Regions from separate parts of the Homo sapiens genome. Here all the other regions are linked to region 1. Evidence: fine-mapped expression QTL. A gene starts in region 1. Each other region holds a variant in brackets. All regions are shown on one strand. Distances are between the middles of the regions.

Region 1 (4,116 bases):
ACAGGCGTGAGCCACCACACCCAGCTAATTTTTGTATTTTTTGTAGAGATGGGGTTTCACCACATTGCCCAGTCTGGTCTTGAACTCCTGAGTTCAAGCACTCCACCTGCTTCGGCCTCCCAAAGTGCTGGAATTACAGGCATGAGCCACCGTGCCCAGCCCCTTTCCTAGATATTACATCGCACCAGTAATCAATGGTAATAAGCCACTTATAAATTCCAAGTGCTAAAGAAATAGAAATACTAATCTTCAGCAACTCTTCCTTTCCAACGTGTGCACCTAGTACCGCTGTATTCCAAGAACGTATTTGATCCCATAACCCCCTTAGCTTCTTAGTTCATAATTTGAGAGGGCTAAAGCTTACCATATCGTTATCAGTTTGCACTGGTTTTAGCAAGAGACCTCAAATTCATCACATTCATGTTTTATCCCACATTAAGTCTGCATCATATAAATTAGAACTACCAAATATTACTGAAAGAACTCACGTTTAAGAAGCAGAAACATTATTTGTTTTATATGGTGATGTTGAAATCGGAGCAGAAGTCTTCAAATCTGAATGTATACAAATGAATCTATCAAATTTTTCCTCAGTGCTTTCTAAGGTTGTCAGGAAAGGCTAGAGGCAAATTCGACATTTTTTCATTTCCCATGACTCATTCCCTCCCATGGAGTTTCGTGCTATATATTCCCTGCCTTGTCTGGTTTTTTTTGTTGTTGTTTGTTGTTTTTTTTTTGCTGAGTCTTTCAATTTGCTGTGTCTTGAACTAGCAAAAGGAGGAGAGGAAGTTCCTCCCAACCTTTGAAACCTCTTAATACTTGCTGAGTGATCAAGGGGGCAGATGACTGCTGATTGGACTTTACCCCATTTGAAAAAGCTTTTGCTATGATAGCTCAACAAACCTCATTTTAAGGAATTAAGTATTTATTTTCCTTAAAACCCAAAATCTTTTGGAACATTTTCCAGAAAGTGAGGCCAAATTTTTGTAGTTAGGGGTCAGTTTGGGGGAACTTAATTTTTTAGGCCCACTTTAAAATTAAATAATTTTGCATAATATATTTAATAAGGCTAAAAATAACTTTATTTTAGACTTATAGTGTTGTCCACTATATTGCTTCATGCTGTTTTTTCGAAATAATTTACAATTATAAATAGACATTGTTGCTCTCACCTTAAGGCAGCAGTTTCTGAGTGAAATTCTTCAAGAAAGTGGAGGCATCATTTCGATATGGTAATAAGCTAGTTATTCTAACATCAACAAGTATGTTTCATGATCAGCGATATACTGATAATTCCCCATGTGTGCTTTTCAAATAGTTTATAAATGCAAAAATATTAGAAGTTGCAGGATCAGGGTTTGAGTCATTTTTTTTCATGTTTCAGCCAGTCCTAAATAAGAGCTGTGAACAACAAGGCTACCTGGTGATTTTGTTTTTTATCTTTTTGTATGTGCATGTGGTTTTTCTGGCTTTTTGTTTTGTTTTGTTTTTGAGACAGGGTCTTGCTCTACCTCCCAGGCTGGAGTGCAGTGGCGTCATCATAGCTCACTGCAGCCTTGACCTCCTGAGCTCAAGCAATCCTCCAGCCTCAGCCTCCTGAGTAGCTAAGACTACAGGCCTGCACCACTGCACCCGGCTAATTTTAAAATTTTTAGTAGACGGGGTCTCGCTCTGTTGCACAGGCTGGTCTCAGACTCCTGGGCTCACGTGATCCTCCCCTGTCAGCCTCCCAAAGCGCTGGGATTACAGGCGTGAGCCACCGCGCCTGGCGATTTTGTTTCCTCTGTACTCTTCGTAGCTCACAATTACGCTAAAAGAACCTTTTTCCCATTGTTAATTCCTTCCATTTCCCTCCCCCACCCGTCGATTCCCCCTATTTTTAGGAAACTCGAAGATGATGTCCTTTCAACGTTCTCTCCTGTATTCTCAAATACAGGATCCAGTCCTAAATATTTTTTAATACATTGGCTAGTTTATTTCTGATGGCATTAAAAGTATCGGCACAACTGTTCCCTGATTTATAAAGCTCACAGATGCTGTATGACCTGTAACATTATACTAGCTAATGAGCTCTCCCGGAACAGTTGACGTGGAAGGAGTTTACTTCCACTTGGTTGCAAGGAGAAAGATGGAGAAAGCGAGAGACGATTGCAAAAAGAAATAACTTAGTCCATTTTCTCAGTGCTGTTTGGGGGCTTTGTGCTAATACTTAAATTGCAGAGGAGGGAGGAGACGGGACTGAGGATGGAGGGGAGCAGAGGAGGCAGGGGCGGAGCCTCGGCGGGCGAATAAAACCCCTCGCTAAAGAGAAGCACGTTAGTGTGTGGAGAAGCCACTCTCCCGAAACCAGAGGGATGGGGCCGGCTGTGCAGTAGAACGGGGATCGAAAAGAGGAAAACAAGGGCACGAAGACCAGCGAGAAAGAAGAGGACACCTGGGAAAGGCGGAAGCAGAAGACGGGGAAGGGAAAAGAAACCCAAAGCAGGTGGAAACCAGATCTAGAGCAACACCGTCAGGTTCACAGTTTGTTTTTCTAGAAGAGAAGAAAGTACCTGAGGATTGCTCTTTTTTCCTACCGTTAATGAAAACTACTTTTGTCTTCATCATAAAAGAAAAAACTAAGGGGAGGTAAAGGCAGTCTCCTGTTTTATTAGGGGGAGAGGTGAAGGGAAATCCAGGCTCACTTTCTGAATAAGCCACTGCCTGGTGCACAGAGCAGAACCATCCTGGTTTCTGAAGACACATCCCTTTCAGCAGAATTCCAGCCGGAGTCGCTGGCACAGTTCTATTTTTATATTTAAATGTATGTCTCCCCTGGCCTTTTTTTTTTTTTTTTTTTTTAGCAACACTTTTCTTGTTTGTAAACGCGAGTGACCAGAAAGTGTGAATGCGGAGTAGGAATATTTTTCGTGTTCTCTTTTATCTGCTTGCCTTTTTTAGAGAGTAGCAGTGGTTCCTATTTCGGAAAAGGACGTTCTAATTCAAAGCTCTCTCCCAATATATTTACACGAATACGCATTTAGAAAGGGAGGCAGCTTTTGAGGTTGCAATCCTACTGAGAAGGATGGAAGAAGGAGCCAGGCACCGAAACAACACCGAAAAGAAACACCCAGGTGGGGGCGAGTCGGACGCCAGCCCCGAGGCTGGTTCCGGAGGGGGCGGAGTAGCCCTGAAGAAAGAGATCGGATTGGTCAGTGCCTGTGGTATCATCGTAGGTGAGTTCCATTCCTTCCCGCGGACCCCTCCTCTCCCCTCTGGTGGTCCTCCTGTGAGATCTTAACCCTTCGAAAGCATTATTGTTCTTCCTATTCCTTAGAAAAGGATTGTCAGTCACCTGAGCTGTAACTCACCTCCACTGGTCAAGTTTGAGAGGCATAGGAAATACATCATACATCTCTTCCTCCAAACCAGGCAAAGATTCTGCCCAGTGTTCATAGAATGGAGCAAATCGTGGTCAGAAACCCGGCTGATGATTAGCATTGCCTGGGAACTCCTTAAAAATACAGGTCCTGGTCTCGACACTTGGAGGTTCTAGTTCAATAGGTTTAAGGAGGGACTGAGGGACCTGAACAAGTTTGTATGCAGCTATTATTCCCAGGCTGGGGATGGGCTTTTAAGGTATATTTGGTAGCTATTTTGCAGTTTTATGTTAAATGAAACTATGGGATAGGTATTAAAAATAGCAAGAGCAATGCCCTGCCTTTTTATTTTAGCGTTTTCCACCTTATGCAGCACTTTTACTGTGTGAAGTAGCTGTGACAGGGCTGTTATTCCCATTTCACAGATGGGGAAGTTATGGAAGAAAAGAGGGGACAGATTGTGCCTCTCGGTAAGTGGAGAGTTTGCAGTTTCTCCAGTTGCCTGGTGGGGTCCACCTGTTTCTTAACAGCCACGGAGGACCCGGTGAAGCTCTCAGAGGGAATCAGGAGTAACTAGAATGTGTAGAATATGGAGTTGAGGAGGAACTGATGGGTAAAATATGTGTCCTAGCTGGGAGGTGCTGAAGGTGGGGAACCTGGGTGGCCCCAAGAGTGCCAGTGCAGGCCACTCAAACCCCCTGAATGTACTTTGCAGGGCAGGAGTCCCAAATACAGCTTCGTCTCTAGACAGCACATC
Region 2 (4,116 bases), 280 kb after region 1:
TATTTTACTTTGGGTTTGTCCACTTGTCTGATTTTGCAGCTTAGCTTCATCCTCCTCCTTTAGGAACTGTCTAAATGACCCATAAACCCTGGTGCCTGAAGCTTGGACTAGCCTTCTACCCCTTGAGATGAGTGCATTGCTTGAGATCTTGGCTTTGCTCCTACACTCTGTCAGTGGCCCTGGTATGGGGGTGTTCAGGAGTTCACCCAGCTTCCCTGGTGCTGCAACTTGGCTCTTTGGGTAATAGTAACCAGGCTGCAGCTAAAAGGTTGGGGGTGTGAGGGAGGTTAGGTATGGGCTTTTAAAGACATGCTTTATAGAATTGATGTTTCTCATAACAGGGATGGGAATAGGAAATTATACTTCCCTCTGGTGCTACCCCATTTGAAGCAATTTCTGCACCGAGAAGGATCAGTTATTAACGTAGCACTATGGGGAGAATAGTGAGGCCACCTAATTATGGGCAAGCTTCACCTTTTCCTGACATTCCAACAAAATGGTTGCCAATTCCTATAACTGGTTCTTCCAGCCCCATGTGACTCCAGGCTGAGAACTGGCTGCCAGCCACAAAGTCTGATAGAAGCTTGTATTTTCTGGGCTTAAACCAGGCAGCATACACTCCCACAGTGACCCACAGGGCAGAGGGCAGTAGGTTGTATTCTGTCATTGGAATTGCTCACCTCAAAAATATCCAGTAAAGGCAAGCCATGTATAACACCTGCCTAGGAACTGTCAGTACCACATGCCAGGCCCTAAGGCAGGTAATGCTGCTAGCTAGCTAAACAAGCTAGCTGTGGTGTTGACAATTCTGTGGTGGCAAGTAACTTTTGTAACCTTTTCTCGCTCTCTGTGTGACTGAGATATGGAAAGGCTTCTGTGGGGCATTTTTGCCCTTGCATTGTTGCCTTTTGGGTCAACAACCTTGACACTTAAACAAACAGCAGACTGGGAATCCTCTTTGTACCAGTGTGTTGCTGGGTGCTGCTGATAAAAGGGACTAGAGAGTAAAGGCCTTCTGGTCAGCAGGTCACTTAGTCAACAGCTCTTGTGTGTATGTGGGGGTGTGGGTTCTGCCTTGCTGTCAGCACTAGGGTGTGTTCCCTCTTAAGCCTGGAATTAGGAGTTCCAGATTCCTAGTACTTAACTAAAATTTGGCCAGGCGCGGTGGCTCACACCTGTAATCCCAGCAGTTTGGGAGGCCAAGGTGGGTGAATCGCCTGAGGTCAGGAGTTCGAGACCAGCCTGACCAACGTGGTGAAACCCCATCTCTACTAAAAAATAAAAATAAAAAAACTAGCTGGGCATGGTGGTGGGTGCCTGTAATTCCAGCTACTCGGGAGGCTGAGGCAGGAGAATTGCTTGAACCCAGGAGATGGAGGTTGTAGTGAGCTGACATGGTGCCACTGCACTCTAGCCTCAGTGACAGAGTGACAGAGTGGGACTCCGTCTCAAAAAAAAAAAAAAAAAAAAAAAAAAAAGACTAAAACTTACTAGGATAGAGAACTGAATTAAAAGCCCAGGAGCCTTGTTCTTAGCTTGTCTTCCATTTGATATACCCATTTGTGAAATAACTTGTCAGGCTAGGTTTCCTACAATAATAAAATTTTGCATTGTTAGATTCTTAATGGAGCTGAAAGATTGAAAAGTGACTGCCATTGAGTCCATTGGAAAAGGTCCTTTTCAGAGAACCATTTTGAGGTGATGGGCCTAGGTCATATTTTCTGGGAAAGAAAAGTTTGTACCTCAGTGAGCATACAATTTTCCTGGGATAGTAGGACTAGGGAGTGTTACTGGGTCTTTGAGAGCATGTCTTTGGTGAGTAGGTGACTAAC[A/G]TGGCCTGGGTTTCTCATAGTTCTCTGATTCTGAGTGTGCCCGGCGGGCCCTGGAACAGTTGAATGGGTTTGAGCTTGCTGGTCGACCTATGAGGGTTGGCCATGTGACTGAGCGACTGGATGGTGGCACAGACATCACTTTTCCTGATGGGGACCAGGAGCTGGATCTGGGATCAGCAGGTGGACGTTTTCAGCTCATGGCAAAACTGGCAGAAGGTAAAATATCTCCGCAAGGTGAAGATTATGGGGTTGAATTTTAGATGAAGGGTTGGGGCTTAATCCCACCTTTTCTTTTCCTTTTAGGCGCTGGAATCCAACTGCCAAGCACTGCTGCTGCTGCTGCTGCCGCCGCCGCCCAGGCTGCTGCCTTGCAACTGAATGGAGCAGTTCCCTTGGGGGCCCTGAATCCAGCAGCTCTGACTGGTAGTCTTGGACATGGGAAAGGAAGGGAAGGTTTGGGGGTCTGGAAAGAAGGAGTGCGCGGTGCTTGCTCACTCACTCTGCCTGTCTTTGTTCTAGCTCTGAGTCCAGCCCTGAACCTTGCCTCCCAGTGTTTCCAGCTCTCCAGCCTCTTTACCCCCCAGACCATGTGAGTCTCAGGGTCTAGCTCATTCTAGCCTTTGATTATTCTCTTTCCTTTGGCTTCCCATTTACCTCTTCTTTCCACAGGTAAATCAGTGGCACAGTATACTGCCTCCTTGTGCCTCTGGATCCTGCCACTTCACATCTACTCTTCCATGGCCCCATTTCTCCATTTTGTGGACCAAGCCATCCTGAGGGCATGGACATTGTCTCTGAGGAAATTGGGGCCACCCTTAAGATACCAAGAAAAGCTCCTGCCCATGGTCCCACTGGAAATGGACTCTGCTGAGCAAAGCCACCAGTTGAAGAGAACAGAATCCACACCTGCATTGAATACCTGTTTCTCCATGTGTATCGTCTCTGAGATTACCTTCTTGCCCTTTCCAACACCTTAGTGATTCCTCAATTTCTCCCCCATTGGGAAGGCCATAGGGCATACTGAAGGAACTGACCTCTCTCCTTTTCCTGTACCTTTAACCTTTAGTCTGTCAAGGAAAACCCTTAGGACCTCTGAATCAAGAGGACTGAGTTTGTGGGTGAACCTTGAAGGTGCTCTTTCTGCTACAAGGGCCCTGGGAGATAGCATGGACGTGCATTGAGAAGCCAGCCTCAGACCTTAGCTTGAAGCAGCTTGAGGCCAGACCTACTGTAGCCTCAGCATCTTGCTAGGAGGCATGGAAGTGATCTATCCTGCCAGGAGGCCTCAGAGTGATCTGTCCTGCCAGGAGGTGTGAGAGTGATCTGTCCTGTGAGGCATTTAGGGGCTTTCAGGAATTTAGTAAAAGGTGGAGTATGCCTTTCCAGTATCTTCCATCTTCCTTTGTATACTTGTCCTTCCTCCCATTTCCTCCCTTTGGCCCGAGGTAGGAGGATGGAGGGAGGCTGCTACTCTACCACTTCCTGTGTGCCTCTACTGTGGCCTCAACCCTGGCAATTATAGCTACTCCCATCCCTTACCTGGGCATGTGTGAGCCCTTCTCACTGGATTTTATACCCTTGTGTCTGTGTACATAAATATATATACATATATATATACATAAAAACTTTGTACAAAAGGCAAGCCTCCTCCTTGTGGCAGCTGTTGCCCATTTGTGTGTGGTCTTTGTTGTGTGTCTGACAACTTCTCATTAGCCCAACTTATGATGTTTCTAGGGATATAAAACATTAGTAACATCATTGTGTTTATTTATTTAACCACCTTTAGAAAGAAAAATGAAAACTCACACCTGGGTGGGGTTCCCATTCTGTATCTGCATTACACTGTTGATCTATGGTTGTCTTCTCCATCTATCTTCATCCTAACTATCTCCATCCCAGCTACCCACTGGACAGAATTACCCAAACAGCCAAGTTGCAGCACCAGGACAGACTTAGACTTAACAGGCTCCTTCTCTGTGCCTAATGACAGATCTTTCCAGCAGATGGCACTATGACAGTACTGCATTCTACACTTGTTTTTTTCTAGTGGGGCGGGGCGGGGAGGGGGGGGGGTTGTGATCTTGAAGAGTTAAGTACCAGAGCTAAGCTGAGCTTTCTTAACTCTATTGGCCTTTGTACCTGCCTTTGACCCTCTTTGTAGTAGCGATCCCAATCCAATATCCAAAGGGGTTTGGGTCTTGTATAACAGCAGGGTTCTCCTGACCTGATGTCTACTGTTGTTCCTCTGTCAGTCCCCTCAACTCCTGCTTTCCATGTGGCTCTG
Region 3 (4,116 bases), 30 kb after region 1:
GCGGCACATATACTAAAATTGGAGCAGTACAGAGAAGATTAGCATGGCCCCATGTACAGATGACATGCAAATTCACAAAGTGTTCCTTATTAAAAAGAGAAAAATATCCGGGCGCAGTGGCTCATTCCTGTAATCCCAGCACTTTGGGAGGCCGAGGAGGGCGGATCACCTGAGGTCGGGAGTTCAAGACCAGCCTGGCCAATGTGGAGAAACCCTGTCTCTACTAAAAATACAAAATTAGCCGGGCGTGGTGACATATGCCTGTAATCCCAGCTACTCGGGAGGCTGAGGCAGGAGAATCGCTTGAACCCGGGAGGCAGAGGTTGCGGTGAGCCGAGATCGTGCCATTGCACTCCAGCCTGGGCAACAAGAGCGAAACTCCATCTCAAAAAAAAAAAAGAAAAGAAAAGAAAAAAGAGTTCAGCAAGTTTAAGTACAAGCTACCCTTGGAATTGGGTTATAACTGAACCGTTTTGGGGGAATTTTGCAGCCTGGGTCCAGGTTTATAGAATTTAGTGAACACCAACAGAGCCTACAAGCCTTCTGGTCCAAGAACCAACTAAACCTCACAGGATCCACACCCTGTCTTCCAAGACTGAAATATGATGGAGGGTCAGGCTAGCCCTCCTGGGCTCAGTGCAGACTCAACAGAACCCATTCTCATCCACCTTGCTCCATGTCTCGGGGGACATCAGCCCTGAGAATTGGTGTGTGAGATAGCAATTTTTCAGGCCCAGGCTGAAAAAGTAATGAGTAGGATTAAAATAGGGTTCCCCAGGGTGGCATGGCAGGCCACCCTGGATTTCTTGGTGTCCAGTTTTTCGCTTCTCCCCGATCCAGGCCAGCTGAGGAGCCATGTTTAGCTCATGCTGAAGAGAGAACTACTCAGCTCTTGGAAAATGCTGAGCTGGGTATTCCTGCCTCTTGGCTGAGCTAAATACTGGGTGGTGATTCAGCAGAAACCCCAGCTCCAGCAGCTGGCGCAGGAGCTAACAGGATAAGAAGGAAGGGGAAGAGAGAGCCAGGAAGGGAGGAGGGGAGGGGATGGGGCAGTATGGGCAGGAGCTTAGCTGGAAGTGTTTGGTAAAAGCTGTGTGCCTCCAGGAGCACTCACAGCCCTCACAGCTTCTCTGCACCCTCCTCCTCTGCTGGTGTGTCCTTGGAAGAGAGAGGCCCTTCCGGAAGGCTCAGAGCACCTCCTCTCCTTTGGAGGGGGTTCCGAGATTTCTAAAACGTTGTAAGTGCTTCGAGATGAAAAGGGCTGGAGAAGGGGAAATGTTACTATCGTGCGATAGGCAAGATCTGTTTCAAAACCACACTCCCCACTGTGCACTTTATAGAAGCTGGGATCAAAGCGCAGTTTATGAGGAAGGGCTGCTTTGATTTTTTTTTTTTTTTTTTTTTGTCTGTTGTGTGGCTTTTTGTGGGTTTTTTTTTTTTAACGTTTTTCTCTTTCACCAGTCAAGTTATATGTATAACTTTATCAGACAAGTTATGTTACATGTACAATAATCCAGGTGCGGAAGGACTTTATAATGTGGGCCCCTCACCCGCTCTAAAAAATGTCTTGAGGTGGGGGTGGGCGGGGAATAGAGAAGGATTCTAGGAGGGTTCTGTGAAGCTGGATCCGTGTCTGCCCACTCCCCCACACCTCCAGGCCTCTCTGGGTCTTTGACGAGGAAAGACTGTTCCGTGTGGCCTGCGTGGGCAGAACTGGAACCTTATCAGAGCCTTGGGTTGTGTGCGTTAGAGGTCAAACAGGCCTCCGTGTTTTCTTTGCCTAT[C/G]AGCGCCTTTTGGCAGCCGGCACTGCTTACCTCCTAGATCTGGAAACGCCTGCGGTTGGACAGGCCAAGCCGAAGCGGCTTTTCCACAATTAGAAACACGTGCTCAGTTCCTTCCACAAGCGGGGGAGGCGGCCAAGGAACTCGGTGCAGCCAATCACAGAGCCGAGCGTAGCCACACCCACGCCCCCACAGGCCCGGCTTCCCTGCCCAGCGGCTCCAACCTCCAGCCTGGGCACCCAGACCCAGAGGGCTGCTGGGAGGGACATGCCTCACCCCTTTTGCTCCAGCTGGAGGGGAGGGAGTCTGTGGGAGCTGGCCAGAGCGTGGCAGAAGGCAGAGAAGTGAACGCCCCAGCAAAAGGTGAGGCTGAGAAGCCAACCCTTCTGGCAGGCCATGACCCAGGTGAAATTTATGGCGTTTCAGAGGGCTGGGGAGCTCCATCCAGAAAGGTGCCTGTTTTGCAGGTTTGGAGAGGAACAGGGCGTTCTGATTTCTACAAAGTGGCGTCACTGCTTCCTTTTTCAGCAACCGTCTGCTTAGTACATTCCATCTTGCTGTTTTCAGTCCTGGCCTCTCTCTGTTCTGCTCCTCTCAAGCCCTTTTTCTCTCCCACTCATCTGCATTGTCCTCCCCTTGCTCTCTCCCGCCCTGTGGTTTCTTGTGCTCTTTCCCTCTCTTCTTCACCATCTGTCTTTATGGACTTTGGCAAGTCTGGACATTTTTCCCCCTTTCTACTGCCTGTTTTCACTTATCTGAACAGACAAGGAGGAGTGGCCTGGTTCTGGAAATGTTAAAGGAAAACCAAGCCTTTCCAAGCCAGTCCAGTCCACTCCTGAGAAAGGTGCAAGCCAGCGAGACCGAGAAATCCAAATGGAGTTCCGGGAGTTTGGAGGGAACATGTGACTGTGACATTGATTAAGGGGGCTGGTGGGAGGGGACCCAAGGTGGAGATCCCTGTGGGAAATGACTTTCTAAAGCCCTGGGAGCAATGGATGCACCTTTCTTGGTTTCTGAGGCATAACTGTGAAAGTCTTCCCCTTTTGCCATATTGGCATCTTCCTTCCTGCTGCACAGAAAGCAGTCCAGGCTGGGGCTAACCAGTGTCTTGGTGACAGACCCAGAGTCCCAAGTGGCACTGGCAGTAGTGACCATGGGTACCACTGACCCAAGCAGGAGGAGAGATGATGTGGGAGCGGCCAAGGGAAAGCAGAGTGATCTGTGTATAATGAAGGAAGGCGGGGCAGAGGCAGAACAAGCAACTGGGAATTGGGCTGTCCCAGTCTGGTCTTTGCTGCGAATTAGCTGGGGTCTAAATTCACTCACATATAAAATGAGGTTCTGGGGCCGCCATGGTGGCTCACAACTGTAATCCTAGCACTTTGGGAAGCCGAGTCAGGCAGATCGCTCAAGCCCAGGACTGGGAAGCTGCAGTGAGCTATGATCATGCCACTGCACTTCAGCCTGGGCGACAGAATGAGACTCCCATCTGTAAAAGAAAAATAAAATGAGGTTCTGGGTCTCTAAGGTCATTCCTGCCTTCTGATCACCCATGAGGCTGGACACAAGCCTTGGGTGGTAGGGCGCAGGCTTCAAATATTTACCTCTAGGGCCAAGAGTTGACTACAAGGAGAGTCCCAACTGGTTCATTCTTCTTAGCACTGTCCTTATAACAACCAATCCAGCCCCGTATCCAGGTGGCCCTATCCCAACCTTTACCCTGTCAGACCAGAATAGTGTGGCTCATCGAGTGGCAGCTGGCTTAGTAGAAGAAATGAGATTGGTTCAGGGATCCATGTGGGAATGTTCATTGGCTCCCTGAGGGAGGCACAAAATGACCCCCTGCTGGCCCAGCTCAATGAGAAGCCAGAGTCCTGTATCCAAAGCAAGGGAGCACCTGAAAACATCACCGGGTGTGGCGGCTCATGCCTGTAATCGCAGCACTTTGGGAGGCCAAGGCAGGTGGCTCACTTGAGCCCAGGAGTTCTAGAGACCAGCCTGGGCAACCTGGCATAACCCGTCTCTACAAAAAATACAAAAATTAGCTGGGCCTGGTGGCACACACCTCAGCTACTCAGGAGGCTGAGGTGGGAGGATCACCTGAGTCTGGGGAGGTTGAGACTGCAGTGAGCCATCATCATGCCACTGCACTCCAGCCTGGATGACAGAGTAAGACCCTGTCTCAAAAAAAAGAAAACATTGGTGGCTCATGCCTGTAATCCCAGCACTTTGAGAGGCCAAAGTGGGCAGATTGCTAGAGCTCAGGAGTTCAAGACCAGCCTGGGCAACATGGCGAAACCCCATCTCTACCAAAAATACAAAAAATTAGCTGGGC
Region 4 (4,116 bases), 47 kb after region 1:
TGGGATCCTTCACATCTAAGAAGGACCTGGGAGGCACCTTGCTCCCTCACCTGGCATCAGGCTGGGCCACCACCCAGCCTGCCAGTCTCTTCACTGGCCTTATCTCAAAAGACTGTAAAGAAAGAGGTCCTCCCATCTCCTGGGGCAGCCTGTTCTTATGACCAACAGCCTTCTATTCTGAACAATCTCTCCTTGGTAATGTGCTGTAAACCTGGCTCAGGGAATATAGAAAAGGCTGGTCTCCTGCATTGTATAGTCCTTAAATACATGAAGATTCATCTATAGCTTCACAGCCTTTTCTTTCTCAGACTAAGGAGGGGCTCATTCCTATTATTTTACCCCCAACTCATCTGTTTTGATGAATTGAGAAATTCTCACCCTGTGATTCTGGATTAATCCCTATTTTGCAGTTGGAGACAGAGGCTCAAAAATCATAAACTTTGCTCAAGGTCTCACAGCTCCTAGCTGGAGGGCAAGGATTTGAGCCTGGATCTGCCTGACAGATCTGCCTGACAAGCCTGTGCCCTTCCCTGTGCTGGAGAAATCATATAATGTATGTAAGGCCTGGATCACACCACCTGGCTTCCAATGCTGGCCCCTCCACTCGCTGGGTGTGTAATCTTAGGCAAGCTACTTAATCACTATGTGACTCAGTTCCTCACCCATAAAACAAGATTAGTAAGTGTTAGTTCATTATTATTATTACCAGTGTGTACTACCTCCTTCAGTTAATTAGCCTAAAACATGCATTAACCACCCTGTGTAGGGGTCCACCCTTGAGAGGGTGGGGGCAATTAAGAAGCTTGGCGAGAGAGAATTAGCAAGGGTGGAGATAGGAGAAACGGTTTCCCAGAGTGAAGTGGGAGCTGAGGGGTCGGGGAGTGGTGACCTCTCCTTTGCTTATCTCCTTGGTTCCTCTCCCAGACTTTTGGAGAGAAGCTCCTAGGAGTCATGGCCTGGATCATGCCCATTTCTGTTGCCCTGTCCACATTTGGAGGAGTTAATGGGTCTCTCTTCACCTCCTCTCGGTGAGTGCTGCCTGGGCCCTTCCCCGGCCAGGGGCCACTCTGCTGTGCACTTTGCTATTTGTATATGGTGGGCTTGTCTCTGTCAGCAGGGGTCTGTGTGGGCATCTGGATGTTGGGCTTGCAGAGGGGTGACTGCTCACATGAGGGCGTGTGTGTCAGTGTGGATGCTGAGGAGTGTGTGCTGCTCACGTGGTCACCTGCGATGTGTGTGGCATACGGGTCCTAGGTGCTTCACATGTAGTGGCCTGTCTCATTTCAAAAGGAGCAGAAGACAGAGGAGGCCGCCAGCCTGCCTGACGCCGCCCCCAGTCAGTGGCTGTGGTTGGCAGCAAGGCAGTATCTTGGCTGCAGTCCTGTACCTGTAAACAGGCTGCTGCTGGCTAGAAAAGAACCCCATTTGGAAAGGGACCAAGAGGGAGACTTGTGCCTGGGGCCTCTGGGTCTGGCCTCCCATGAATGTTCTGGAACTAGCCTGCAGGTGGGATGGCTTCACCCTGATTGCCCCAAGAATGCAGAGCTCCTCCCTGCTCAACAGAGAGGTGGCTGTAGAGGCCTTTTTGAGGCCACCCATGAGACTCAGGTGGAGAATGTGAAGTGAGAGGGTGGGGAAAAGTGGAAAGCAAACATTTGTCCAAAGAAAGAGCCTTTTATCCGTGACCCCCACCCCAGAGCACTCTCAGAAGCCAGAAGTGCGAGCGGGTCCACGAGTCCCAGGTCCTGCCTCCATGCATCCAGGGACCCGGCCCTTTCTTTTGCTGTCTTCAGAAGGGGCTGTTGAGGCTAGCAGATGTTGAATGACTTCCATTTGTGTGGTTCAAGGGATCCTCCCAGGTTCTTAGAAAGCACCCCCTGCCCTCAGAAAGTACAGTCCTGCTCCAAAGATGAGTCCGTGAGTTCAGCTGCTTCCAAAGCCGTCACATCAGGAAGAGTTCCTGTGAAATAACAAGGGAGTGCAATGTTTTTAGGACCCAGGGCTGGAAAGAGGTGGTGTGGGTGTCCCCTGTACCCCGGGACCCTGTGACGCTCACCCACAGCAACCTCGTGTGCATGTTACACAGGAGCAGTGGCCACACGGAGGCCCCGCCGAGGCCAAGCGGTGGAGGAACAGTGACCCGTGAGGCTCCCTGAGATCTATTGGAGGAGAGTGACTGGCTAC[A/G]GTCACTTTAGAGTGGGGTTTGTCCCTCAGGCAGGCCTAGCAGCGGTCTGCGTGCATGTGGTCTAGTCGTGTGTGCATGCAGGAAACGGTGGCGCATGGTGTGCTCCACCTCCGATTCAGAGGCCAGACCTCACCCACCCAGGCCTCCCCTGCTCATCTTTCCAGTTCCTTCTTCCTTCCTTCTCCTTCCCTCCTTCTTTATCTCTCTGTCACTCCTTTGTGTTCTCGGGTAGGGAGAGGATGATCCTTCCTGAAGAGTCAGAGTGTGTGGATGTGTGTTATGCTTAATGTCATCGTCTCCTCCGTTATCGGCTAGCTGGGCAAGGACTGTCTCTTGTGAACCTGACACTTGCAAATGCTGTTGGATCTGGACAATTACACTTGGTCTTGTCTGCATGTGGAGGGGGGACGTGAGTGCAGGACCCTGGCTATGTGCACGATGAGCCCCACAGAGCACCTGGTGCATGAGACTGCCCTGTAGAGGGGCAGTAGCATGGGAGAGGGGACAGGGATGTGTATGGCTGCATGAAACTAGTGACACCGGCCTAGGGAGTTCATGATGGTTACTGCTTATGGGTACTTGGGGATACAGTCAGCTCCCACACTTCTGATTAGCTGCTGCTGTTCGCTTCAGTCTACTCCATACACAAATTACAAAGTAAATGACTATTCTCCTCTGAACTCCCAGTGTGCTGAATATGTGCCTTTTTGTTCCTATCAAGCTGTACCCTGCCTGTCATCCCTTAGGTGGGCCTTTCCCCAGAAAAAAGAAAAAAGTGGTCCAATTTGCACTGACATGTAAATTACTGTTGACAGCTTCTAATATTCACTTTTCTCTTAGGAGAGTAAAAGGGAAGGAGGGCTGATTTTTATGTTCAAGTTTCATATTCATATGTATATAATAGATGTACATATTTTCAAGCTACAGATGATGTTTCAATACATTGATATAATGTGTAAAAATCAAATCAGAGTAATTGAGATATCCCATCTCCTTCAATATTGTCTTTTCTTTATGCTAGGAACATTCAAATTATTCTCTTAAAATTTTTCTTTTTTTTTTAAGGCAGAGTCTCGCTCTGTCGCCCAGGCTGGAGTGCAGTGGCGCAATCTTGGCTCACTGCACACTCTGCCTCCCGGGTTCACGCCATTCTCCTGCCTCAGCTTCCCGAGTAGCTGGGACTACAGGCGCCTGCCACCACGCCTGGCTAATTTGTTGTATTTTTAGTAGAGACGGGGTTTCACCATGTTAGCCAGGACGGTCTTGATCTCCTGACCTCGTGATCCGCCCGCCTCAGCCTCCCAAAGTGCTGGAATTACAGGCGTGAGCCACCGCACCTGGCCTAAAACTTTTCTTTTTAAAAATAACTTTTATGTCCAGGCGCAGTGGCTCACACCTATAATCCCCAGCACTTTGGGAGGCTGAGGCGGGCGGATCACAAGGTCAGGAGTTTGAGACCAGCCTAGCCAATATAATGAAACCCCACCTCTACTAAAAAAAATACAAAAATTAGCTGAGCGTGGTGGCAGGTGCCTGTACTCCCAGCTACCCAGGAGGCTGAGGCAGAAGAATCACTTGAACCCAGGAGGCGGAGGTTGCAGTGAGCCGAGATCGTGACACTGCACTCCAGCCTGGGCAACAGAGCAAGACTCTGTCTCAATAAAAATAAAAAATATTAAAAAAATAATAACTTTTAGGGCTGGGCGTGGTGGCTCACGCCTGTAATCCCGGTGCTTTGGGAAGGCAAGGTGGAAGGATTGCTTGAGCCCAGTAGTTCCAGACCAGCCTGGGCAACAAGGCAAGACCTTGTCACTACAAAAAATTAGCAAAGAAAAATAAGTAAAAAATAAAATTGATTTAAACATCAATATCCTAGTTGTGATATTATAATATAATTGTGTAGCATGTTACCAATGGAGGAAACTGGGCAA
Region 5 (4,116 bases), 38 kb after region 1:
TCACAAATCTCAGGGATTAGAACGTTGATATCTTGGATGGCCATAATTCTGCCTTCAACTGCCCCCCATCCCAAAGAGATATGCTGTCATTGCCAAGGGGAGGAAGTGAAGGAGAGACTTCTGTAATTCCTGGAGATCAAAGTCTGGGATCAGAGCTGGGATGGGGCTGAGGGCACCTTCTCTGTAGGGAACCCAGCCCTCCACAGTGAGCAAGCCAGTTGCAGGTCTGCAGCGAGGACTCTGAATCCCTCTGCCAGTCCTGCAGAAAGCATTGAGCCCATCTCTCCTGCTTGGCAGCTGGGAGGCCCTGGACTCTGGGCAGTGTTCCAGGTTGCTAGAATCTGAGTTTTCCTCCTCCTGCCTGACTCATTATTTGTATCTCTTCTGTCACCTTGATGTTGAGTTCTTCAAACTGGGTGGATTAAGTAACCAGCCCCTGACTTCAGCATCTTCTTGAACTCTTGTCTTCTTAATAGTCTTTCATCTTATTTTTTACCCAGGAAGCAAGAAAGAAAGAGGGGAGGAAATGCCCAAAAAATACATACAAGCCTGGAATTCCATGAGGGCCTCTAAAGAAGCAGTAACCACTCCCGCAACTAGGTTACAACGGACAAGAACCAGTCTTATGACTTTTTATTTTGTCCAGTTGGACCAGGATTATAAATTTCTCCATGTTGCCAGGGTCTCCTCCTCCTATAGAAGGCATCTCTGATTCCCCTGGGCTGAGTTAGTGGTTCCTCATAGATGCCCACTAGCTTCCGTGAATAGCTTTGCCATCACCTCGTTGTTTTGTGGGCATCTCTTACTTCACCCGTCGTCCCTGTTATACTGCCAACTTCCTAAAGGCAGGGACTTGTGTCTTATCAATAACCTCCCCACCAGCTAGAATGCCTAGTACATGTAGGCCCTGCATGAATGACGGATGAGTAGATGGGTGGATGGATAGACAGATGGATGGATGGATAGATGATGGATGGTTGGATGGGTGGGTGGATGGATGGATGATAGATGGATAGATGGGTGGGTGGATGGATGCATGGATGATGGCTAGATGGGTGGATGGGTGAATGGATCTATGATGGATGGATGGATGGATGGATGGATAAAAAGCCCCTCACATTTCAAAGCTGCTATGGCCAATGATCCTCATCTACATGTGGCTTCCCTGAGGTCACTGTGTCTCAGGAATGCGGAATTCAGGGTCTAGCCGAGAAGAGAGGGTTCTAGAATATCATCGTCCGCAACAGACAAGTGCCAAGCAGTAGCTAGCCAGCAGCAGGGCTCCTGACCGGGGCAGGAGCTTGGCGAGCACCCACTGACCTTTCCTCTCTGGGTGGAGGCTCAGGTTTCAGCCTGCTGTGAGGGAAGCTGTCTTGTGGTACCAGGAGACTGATACCCTCTTTCCCCTCAGTCACATGGTATGATCACCCAACTGCAGGGTGAAGGGCCAGATCTGGGGCCTGCAGCCATTGTTCCAAGGAGATTAGGTGTCACAGGCAGCCTGCCTATCCCCACCTCATTCTCAGAATTTCTTCTTGTTTCTGAAAGATTACTGTGAAGGTGAAAGGTTAAATATTAGTCAAGGGCTGAGTTCTTGGGAAGTGAT[G/A]GAGATAAGGTTAGGCAAGACAGAAGATAGCCACAGATAGGTTATTTTACAAAGCATCCCTATCTCTGTTACCCCAGGAAGACCACAGAGCTGATAGTTTGAAGGTGTCTTTCTGTGACTCAGTAAGGTCCATCTTGTAAAGAGATGATTTCATGTTTTCTTTCCCAGCACACAGGGAGGTGGTCTGCTTGGGGGAGGAGGAATTTCTTTGAGTTGTCCTGCTCTGCCCTTATTTTCCTCAAGCACTTTCTGTCATTTCCTCGCCCTCCCCTCTCCTCCCCTTGGAGAAGGATTTTCTTCCCTGAGATCAAGATCCAGTTCCTTGTTGTGTAATCCTTACCTATCCCTGAGGCTTATGGGGTTTGTTTCCTAATCTTCCTTCCTTCCTTTTATCAATCTCCTTTATCCTTGAGTTACTGCTGTGTCTGCCTGAATTCCTGGGTGAAGGGGCGCAGCCTTGTACCTTGCATGCCTTGGGGCCTAGGGAAGAAGCTGAGATCACAGACCCAGTTGTTTAGAGTGACTTAGGTTGGCTTGTCACCAGGCACATGATCCTGAAATCCTTATTGAATTGAGTAAGACAAACCAAATGTGTATTTATCAGGATGTCAGTCCGTCTGGAACATTTGAGTATTTACAAAGTGTTCTCCCTGCTCGGGCACTTAAAATCCTTCCTCTGACAACATGTTTTGCTTCTCCTTGCATGACATCATCTTGGATAATAGCTCTTCCATGAGGAGTCAGGAGCTTCTGCTCTTGAAGTCAAGTTCCCTGTTGCCCTTTGGCAACATGAAGCCAACTAGGGATTGTGTCTCCTTTTGATGGGGTTCCTGGGGAGCAGAAGAGGTTGATGTGCGCTGTGGAATGTGTAGACTGAGATGATATTGGAAGGCTAATGAATTGTGATATTTTAAAATTCATTTATTAAATACTTGCTGAGCATCTACTATTTGCAGGCGCCAATGATAAGTCCTGAGATTTAAAAACATGAAAACATTTACTTGCCCTTGGTGTCTTAAAAAAAAAAAAATTTTTTTTTCTTTTTTTTTTGAGATGTGGTCTAGCTCTGTCACCCACGCTGGAGAACACTGGCACAATCTCGGCTCACTGCAACCTCCGCCTCCCGGGTACAAGTGATTTTCCTGCCTCAGCCTCCTGAGTAGCTGGGATTACAGGCGCGCCACCACCACGCCCAGCTAATTTTTGTATTTTTGGTAGAGACGGGTTTCACTGTGTTAGCCAGACTGGTCTCGAACTCCTGACCTCATGATCTGCCCACCTTGACCTCCCAAAGTGCTGGGATTACAAGCGTGAGCCACCATGCCCGGCCAGAAGCAGGTCATTTTAATACAAAGAAATGCATCCCGGCCGGGCGGTGGCTCCTGCCTGTAATCCCAGCACTTTGGGAGGCTGAGGATCATGAGATCAGGAGATCGAGACCATTCTGGCTAACACGGTGAAACCCTGTCTTTACTAAAAATACAAAAAATTAGCTGGGTGTGGTGGCGGGCGCCTGTAGTCCCAGCTGAGGCAGGAGAATGGCGTGAACCCAGGAGGCAGAGCTTGCAGTGAGCCGAGATCGCGCCACTGCACTCCAGCCTGAGCGACAGAGTGAGACTCCGTCTCAGAAAAAAAAAAAAAAAGAAAAAGAAAAAAGAAATACATCCCAACATTAGATATAAACAAAGTGGTCTGGGATTGTTCTAGAGAGAAGGAACAAACTTTGTTCCTCGTCTACAAAACACAGCTGATATATCTTCCCTTGCAGGCATGTTGTTAGGAATAAATAACATGCTGAATTATAGAGATTCACAGAACAGGTGACATTTAAGCTGGATCTTGAAAGAGGAGAAGGGGTTTGCCAGGTGGAGATGGCGCACAAAGGAAGGTTACAGACGGTTAATGTCAGGACCATCCTACCCTAACCAAATGTTCTCAGCATCAAATAAGGTTGGGAAATACTTGGAAAGTAGAAGTACCATATAAGAATACGGTACTGATAAAACTTGATCAGCCATTCAAGTGAAGTCAGAGCGACCACACCACCCAGCTTATTTTTAAAATTTTTTGTAGAGAATTACAACTCCCCATGCCACCAAAGAAGATTTGTAAATGGATGGTAAATAAGCACATGAAGAGTTGCTCAACATCATTAGCCATTAGGGAAATGCAAATCAAAACCATAATGAAATACAACTACATGCCTATTAGCCAAAAAAAAAAAAAAAAAAAAAATTGTGTTTAAACTGACAATACCAAATGCTGGGAAAGATACAGAGCAACAGGAACTCTGACATGAGAGTAGGAATGCAAAATGAGACAGCCACTGTGGAAGACAGTTTGGCAGTTTCTTAGAAAGTTAAACACATTTACTCTATGGCCCAGGATCTCATTCCTGGGGATTTACTCAAGAGCAATGAAAACCCCACTCAAAGATCTCTACAATCCACAAAAAGAAAAAAGACATCTACACAAGTATTTATCACAACTCTATTCATAATAGTCCCACA

What was found.
Region 2: its variant is fine-mapped to the expression of SLC7A8 in tibial artery (GTEx, PIP 0.90).
Region 3: its variant is fine-mapped to the expression of SLC7A8 in whole blood (TOPMed, PIP above 0.99).
Region 4: its variant is fine-mapped to the expression of SLC7A8 in cerebellar hemisphere (GTEx, PIP above 0.99). The same link has a PIP of 0.9 or more in caudate, cerebellum, nucleus accumbens and putamen.
Region 5: its variant is fine-mapped to the expression of SLC7A8 in whole blood (TOPMed, PIP 0.97).

Annotation. Positions count from the first base shown.
Region 1 is chr14:23,181,863-23,185,978 of GRCh38, reverse strand. It overlaps SLC7A8 (solute carrier family 7 member 8), which reads left to right and starts at 2,319. Exons shown (of 11, transcript NM_012244.4): 1 at 2,319-3,215. The coding sequence starts at 3,065. It also overlaps a transcript of RNF212B not described here.
Region 2 is chr14:22,900,119-22,904,234 of GRCh38, reverse strand. It overlaps RBM23 (RNA binding motif protein 23), which reads left to right. Exons shown (of 14, transcript NM_001077351.2): 11 at 1,853-2,048; 12 at 2,136-2,255; 13 at 2,352-2,421; 14 at 2,502-4,116. The coding sequence ends at 2,505. Among named protein-coding and RNA genes, the nearest start is that of RBM23, 17 kb to the left of the region's middle. RefSeq lists enhancers at 3,691-3,760, 3,778-4,116. The variant A/G (reference allele first, on the strand shown) is at 1,833.
Region 3 is chr14:23,152,287-23,156,402 of GRCh38, reverse strand. The region is part of intron 3 of SLC7A8 (solute carrier family 7 member 8); the gene reads left to right. It also overlaps the pseudogene RNU6-1138P. Among named protein-coding and RNA genes, the nearest start is that of SLC7A8, 29 kb to the left of the region's middle. The variant C/G (reference allele first, on the strand shown) is at 1,785.
Region 4 is chr14:23,134,833-23,138,948 of GRCh38, reverse strand. SLC7A8 (solute carrier family 7 member 8) reads left to right here. Exons shown (of 11, transcript NM_012244.4): 7 at 925-1,028. Among named protein-coding and RNA genes, the nearest start is that of CEBPE, 18 kb to the right of the region's middle. RefSeq lists a silencer at 1,055-1,349. The variant A/G (reference allele first, on the strand shown) is at 2,185.
Region 5 is chr14:23,144,067-23,148,182 of GRCh38, reverse strand. All of the region lies in intron 3 of SLC7A8 (solute carrier family 7 member 8), which reads left to right. Among named protein-coding and RNA genes, the nearest start is that of CEBPE, 27 kb to the right of the region's middle. The variant G/A (reference allele first, on the strand shown) is at 1,607.